Homo sapiens: one gene and its partner. The protein of the gene in region 1 purifies or fractionates together with the protein of each later gene. This does not show direct contact. Each region holds a gene or a part of one and is shown on either strand. Other genes may lie near its edges.

Evidence for each region. The genes of interacting proteins can lie anywhere in the genome.
Region 2: the proteins of PLEKHM1 (region 1) and SEH1L purify together in Homo sapiens (affinity purification with mass spectrometry; one study listed by BioGRID and IntAct). This does not show direct contact.

What each region holds. Positions count from the first base shown.
Region 1 is NC_000017.11:45,435,400-45,438,721, forward strand, and holds the end of PLEKHM1 (pleckstrin homology domain-containing family M member 1), read right to left. Parts: intron 2,571-3,322; coding exon 2,459-2,570; 3' UTR 501-2,458; downstream 1-500. UniProt on the Homo sapiens protein: Acts as a multivalent adapter protein that regulates Rab7-dependent and HOPS complex-dependent fusion events in the endolysosomal system and couples autophagic and the endocytic trafficking pathways.
Region 2 is NC_000018.10:12,979,011-12,982,510, reverse strand, and holds part of SEH1L (nucleoporin SEH1), read right to left. Parts: intron 1-3,500. UniProt on the Homo sapiens protein: Component of the Nup107-160 subcomplex of the nuclear pore complex (NPC). The Nup107-160 subcomplex is required for the assembly of a functional NPC.

The DNA.
Region 1 (3,322 bases):
AGGTCAGCAGCCAAGTAAAAGTCATTTTGAGCCCTAAAACCATGAGCCCTGAATCGGGGGATCCACTTAAATAACCCTTCTTTCCTGAGCCCCATCTCTCCTTTATTTCTCCTCTGAGAAATGTCCCCTGTATCCTGAGGTTTCACATGATCCAGTGTCAAGGGTCTGTGTTTTGACATTTAAGTCACAGGAAAAGAAGCCACCGGCGTGGGATCAGCTTGAGTTGTTATACAAGTGTGGGTACACCTCCCCAGAGACCCTGAGATCCTACCCCAGGAAGAGCCTGACTGCTGGGCTTGGCAAGGTGGTTTTCTTACTCTCTTCTCCCTGCCCACTCCTGGCATGCAAGCCCTCTGCCTACAAGTGTTTGCCACGGACCTCCCAAGCCTTCCCCCGTGCCAGGGACTAACATGAGGGTAGGGGACCCTGACAGATGGTAACAGATGGCTGGTGGTCTCCCCCCTGGCCGTGGCAGTGTTAGAATTCAGAAGCCAGACCAGTGATGAGAAAGATCAGGTCTTTACTGCAAAATCATTCAAAACTCACACGGCAGCAATTCCTTCAATACATTGCAAAGACTCCTCAGGGCCAGAGCCCTGCTCACTAGGAACAGTGTATTGCATAAAATAACATTTTAAAAATAGTGTGGGCACTACCTTTCTGAGGGAGGGGAGGCGGGAAGAGTCAATGCATCTGAAAGCACTGGCAGCTTCTGGGGAACGGGCCCCCCAGGGCCTCAAACCTGCTGCCTCCGAGGGCACCTTCGGGGAGAATCCTCACAGGCCCAAGCCCTCCCCAGGCCAGGCTCCTGCCCACTCAGGGATGGGGCAATGAGGGCTCTGACTAGGCTGGGCTTGTGGTGGAGCGTTAATGTGGGCCATGGCGGTGCATAACCCAGCTCCTGGCTTAGGAGGCATTGGCGTCTGGGCACAGGTGTGTGCCATGACCGGGAGAAGCTGTGCGCAGCCTCCACCTGCCTGCCACCGTTGCCTCTGTTCTGCTGCACAGGCATCCAGCTCCAAGGCTGGGTGGGTGACTCAGCAGCTAATCGCCCCCAGGGAAGGGTGGGGGTGGGCTCATCTCTGACAGTGACATGCGGCTCTCCACCTGAGGCCTGACTCCAAGCTGAGCGCAGGTAAGACAGCTAGGACTGAGGGCCTGCTAGGTCCAGGAGAGGTGGGGGAAGGCGACAGAGAGACCAGCAAACCCACATTTCCCCGAAGCCTGGAGGGTCTGACCATCACTTTGAAAACAATTCCAGACTCCCACCCCAGCCCCAAGGCCCCTTCAAAGGCAGTCCTGCTCCGGGGAACTTCTTCAGTCTCCAGTGTCCCGGCTGGGCAAGTTCAGTGATGCTTTGGGAATTCATGGCTTTGTGAGGTGGTGGCTGCATCCACAGGGCAGTTCCCCCGCACGCCCTGCACAGCTTAGGACCAGGTCACTTCTCCACAGTGCAGGGCGTGGCTGCCTGCCCTCTCTGGGGTCCTGCCTATCTGTGCCCTGGCAGGGGTCAGTCAGGCAGAGAGTGTGACCCCGGGCACCCACCAAGGTGGGCCTGGAGCATCTGCAGCAGCGCCCCTGTCTGTAGAGGGGTGAGGAGCGCACGGGGATCGGGGGTGGGCAAGACGGCGACCCTCCATAAACCGAGGAGGGCTCAAAGTGCTGACAGTGCTGGTTTCCAGTCATTTCTCCTTCTCCTAATGGGGCCAAGGCCCCAGGCTAGAGAAGAGCTAGGGGCTCTGACGCTGAGAAAGCGGTGGGCTCAGCAGGCGAGACGCACTGGGGTGGGGAGTAAAGAGGACACAGAGGAACCGGGGTCGCCAGGACTGGCCCTGCCCTGCTGAGGGGCGGTTTGGCACTGGCAGTGAGGGCCAAGGAAAGGCACTGGGTGGGCCCATAGACCCTGTCCCAGCAGTGGCCTGCCCACCAGCCACCCGCTACCTCTAAGCCAGGCCTGAGTGGCTCCTGTGCATCCGCTGGGGGTGAGAATGTCTGGATTTCATGGGTGACTCACGTAGGGTCAAGAATAAAAAAATACTTTCTGTTGAAATATGAATGGGAAAAACCCACCTTAAAAAACTAGACCTTTTAATCAGGAATGTGGAATTGAAAATGCTCCCCAAGTCCCCTTTCCACAGTGTTTGGGCAGCCCTAACGGAGGCGCCGGGACGCTGGTGAGCCAGGGCCTGGTGAGTAAACGGCCCTGCCTGCCCCAGACAGGGAGCATCTGGTGGTGGCCACGCCTCCTGCAGCAGAGGGGTGGGGGGAGGGCCAGGGGACACCACGGGGACTTCCTGGGCTTTCTCTGGGAGGCCGGTGCTCTGGCCACATCTGAGGGTCTTCCTGACAAGGGGACACAGCTGTGACACGGTGAGTATCCTGGGCTGATGGCAAACCCAGCCGGGATGGCTGAGCCACACTCACCCCCGGCTTTCAGAGCGGGGTCAGCAGATGGGCATCAGGCGAAAATGTTCTGTTCCTGGTACTTGCGCCGGCGGGCACAGCGGGGGCAGCCCTTCTTCACCACAGCCTGGCAGCTCTGGTGGAAGACGGTCTTGCACTCGGCACACCTGGGGAGAGAGCAGTAGGCCTGCTGGTGCCGGCTGGGCTGGAGGTTGCCCTGTGGCCACGCTGGCCAGCCCTTTTGACCAGAACCCACGATACGGCTGTGATGTACTGTGTAACCCATGCACGCACACCGTGCCTCTCCGTTCTGGAACAGGAGAGTCTTGAAACAGTGCTTACCCATACGTCACACAATGCACACTGATATTCTCTGTCCTATTGCATTTTTTATAAATGCTGCTTGAGATTCATTAAAGATCTCTTGCCTATATTTAAAAAATATTTACGGCCAGGCGCAGTGGCTCACGCCTTTAATCCCAGCACTTTGGGAGGCCGAGGTGGGCGGGTCACAAGGTCAGGAGATCGAGACCATCCTGGCTAACACAGTGAAACCCTGTCTCTACTAAAAATACAAAAATTAGCCGGGCGTGGCGGTGTGTGCCTGTAGCCCCAGCTGCTGGGGAGGCTGAGGCAGGAGAATGGCATGAACCCGGGAGGCAGAGCTTGCAGTGAGCCGAGACTGCACCATTGCACTCCAGCCTGGGCGACAGAGCAAGACTCCATCTCAAAAAGAAAAAAAAAATTTTTTTTACTTACTTTATTTATTTATTTTTCAGAGTCTTGCTCTGTTGCCCAGGCTGGAGTGCAGTGGCACGATCTCGGCTCACTGCAACCTCTGCCTCCCGAATTCAAGTGATTCCCCTGCCTCAGCCTCCCAAGTAGCTGGGATTACAGGTGCCCACCACCACACCTGGCT
Region 2 (3,500 bases), on another chromosome or scaffold:
TAAAAAACATTTTCTGAGGCATTCCAAACAAAGTTTTAAAACATATATATATACACACACATATATATATACACACGTAAAATTCTAAATTAATACAAGTGGTCTCGCCACCACATCACTTTATAATAATGTGCACATCTGCCCAAACCCCACACCTTGGCCCTTGAGCTGGGCCAATGTCATTTTCATTTAACTCGCCAAGACCTGGAGTGATCCCAGCACATAAATGATACTCAGTGACTGTTTCATGGAAGAAAGAAACAACAAAACAGGATGATTTTATTCTCCCACACAAGGCAGAAGAATAAAATAGATGACAATAATTAATTTAAAAAGGCAGGGCAAGGCCAGGTGCAGTTGCTCACACCTGTAATCGCAGCACTTTGGGAGGCCAAGGTGGACAGATCACTTGAGGCCAGGAGTTCAAGACCAGCCTGGCCAACATGGCGAAACCCCATCCCTACTAAAAATACAAAATAAAAAATTAGCCAGGCATGGTGGCGGGCGCCTGTAGTCCCAGCTACTCAGGAGGCTGAGGCATGAGAATTGCTTGAACCTGGGAGGTGGAGGTTGCAGTGAGCCAAGATCAAGCCACTGCCCTCCAGCCTGGGCAACGGAGTGAGACCTTGCCTCAAAAAAAAAAAAAAAAAAAAAAAAAAATGGGCAGGGCAGCAAGTAGGAAAGAATGAAAGAATGGAAAGAAAAGAACTGAAATTCACAATTCAAAATTAAAGTTAAATATGTTATTCACAAGACTGTCTCAATACTAATTTAGTTTTCCCTAAATAGACTGCCACTTGTCATTAAATATTTATAGATTATCAGTTATATTTGGAGAATTGTTAGTTTCAGCCTAAATAAAGCACAGTTAAGAGAATATAAATCTGCTCTTGACTCAATTCCCCTTTCCAAAAAGACATATATTTATATATAAAATGTTCATTAAATAATCCATTCTTCAAAAATGACATTAATTTAAAAGTAACTGTAGGTGTTGGCCGGGCTGGTCTCCAGCTCCTAACCGCGAGTGATCCGCCAGCCTCGGCCTCCCGAGGTGCCGGGATGGCAGACGGAGTTGCATTCACTCAGTGCTCAATGGTGCCCAGGCTGGAGTGCAGTGGCGTGATCTCGGCTCGCTACAACCTCCACCTCCCAGCTGCCTGCCTTGGCCCCCCAAAGTGCCGAGATTGCAGCCTCTGCCCGGCCGCCACCCCGTCTGGGAAGTGAGGAGCGTCTCTGCCTGGCCACCCATCGTCTGGGATGTGAGGAGCCTCTCTGCCTGGCTGCCCAGTCTGGAAAGTGAGGAGCGTCTCTGCCCGGCCGCCATCCCATCTAGGAAGTGAGGAGCGTCTCTGCCCGGCCGCCCATCATCTGAGATGTGGGGAGCATCTCTGCCCGGCCGCCCTGTCTGAGAAGTGAGGAGACCCTCTGCCTGGCAACCGCCCCGTCTGAGAAGTGAGAAGCCCCTCCGCCCGGCAGCCACACCGTCTGAGAAGTGAGGAGCCCCTCCGCCCGGCAGCCACCCCGTCTGGGAAGTGAGGAGCATCTCCGCCCGGCAGCCACCCCGTCCGGGAGGGAGGTGGGGGTCAGCCCCCCGCCCGGCCAGCCGCCCCGTCCGGAAGGGAGGTGGGGGGGGTCAGCCCCCCGCCCGGCCAGCCGCCCCGTCCGGAAGGGAAGTGGGGGGGTCAGCCCCCCGCCCGGCCAGCCGCCCCGTCCGGGAGGTGAGGGGCGCCTCTGCCCGGCCGCCCCTACTGGGAAGTGAGGAGCCCCTCTGCCCGGCCAGCCGCCCCGTCCGGGAGGGAAGTGGGGGGTGTCAGCCCCCCGCCCTGCCAGCCACCCTGTCTGGGAGGTGAGGGGCGCCTCTGCCCGGCCGCCCCTACTGGGAAGAGAGGAGCCCCTCTGCCCGGCCAGCTGCCCCGTCCGGGAGGGAGGTGGGGGGGTCAGCCCCCCGCCCGGCCAGCCGCCCCGTCCGGGAGGGAGGTGGGGGGGTCAGCCCCCCGCCCGGCCAGCCGCCCCGTCCGGGAGGGAGGTTGGGGGATCAGCCCCCCGCCCGGCCAGCCGCCCCGTCCGGGAGGGAGGTTGGGGGGTCAGCCCCCCGCCCGGCCAGCCGCCCCGTCCGGGAGGGAGGTGGGGGGGTCAGCCCCCCGCCCTGCCAGCCGCCCTGTCCGGGAGGTGAGGGGCGCCTCTGCCCGGCCGCCCCTACTGGGAAGTGAGGAGCCCCTCTGCCCGGCCAGCCGCCCCGACCGGGAGGGAGGTGGGGGGGCCAGCCGCCCCGTCCGGGAGGGAGGTGGGGGGGTCAGCCCCCCGCCCGGCCAGCCGCCCCATCCGGGAGGTGAGGGGTGCCTCTGCCCGGCCGCCCCTACTGGGAAGTGAGGAGCCCCTCTGCCCGGACAGCCGCCCTGTCCGGGAGGGAGGTGGGGGGGGGTCAGCCCCCCGCCCGGCCAGCCGCCCCGTCCAGGAGGGAGGTGGGGGGGTCAGCCGCCCGTCCGGGAGGGAGGTGGGGGGGTCAGCCCCGCGCCCGGCCAGCCGCCCCGTCCGGGAGGTGAGGGGCACCTCTGCCCGGCCGCCCCTACTGGGAAGTGAGGAGCCCCTCTGCCCGGCCAGCCGCCCCGTCCGCGAAGGAGGTGGGGGGGTCAGCCCCCCGCCCGGCCAGCCGCCCCATTCGGGAGGTGAGGGGTGCCTCTGCCCGGCCGCCCCTACTGGGAAGTGAGGAGCCCCTCTGCCCGGACAGCCGCCCCGTCCGGGAGGGAGGTGGGGGGGTCAGCCCCCCGCCCGGCCAGCCGCCCCGTCCGGGAGGGAGGTGGGGGGGTCAGCCCCCCGCCCAGCCAGCCACCCCGTCCGGGAGGTGAGGGGCGCCTCTGCCCGGCCGCCCCTACTGGGAAGTGAGGAGCCCCTCTGCCCAGCCACCACCCCGTCTGGGAGGTGTACTCAACAGCTCATTGAGAACAGGCCATGATGACAATGGTGGTTTTGTGGAATAGAAAGCGGGGAAAGGTGGGGAAAAGATTGAGAAATCGGATGGTTGCCGTGTCTGTGTAGAAAGAAGTAGACATGGGAGACTTTTCATTTTGTTCTATACTAAGAAAAATTCTTCTGCCTTGGGATCCTGTTGATCTGTGACCTTACCCCCAACCCTGTGCTCTCTGAAACATGTGCTGTGTCCACTCAGGGTTGAATGGATTAAGGGTGGTGCAAGATGTGCTTTGTTAAACAGATGCTTGAAGGCAGCATGCTCGTTAAGAGTCATCGCCACTCCCTAATCTCAAGTACCCAGGGACACAAACACTGCAGAAGGCCGCAGGGTCCTCTGCCTAGGAAAACCAGAGACCTTTGTTCACTTGTTTATCTGCTGACCTTCCCTCCACTATTGTCCTATGACCCTGCCAAATCCCCCTCTGGGAGAAACACCCAAGAATGATCAATAAAAAAAAAAAGAAAGAAAAAAAAGTAACTGTAAAAGACCATTTTTAAAAAACATTTCAAAGTTTACATTTTTAAGT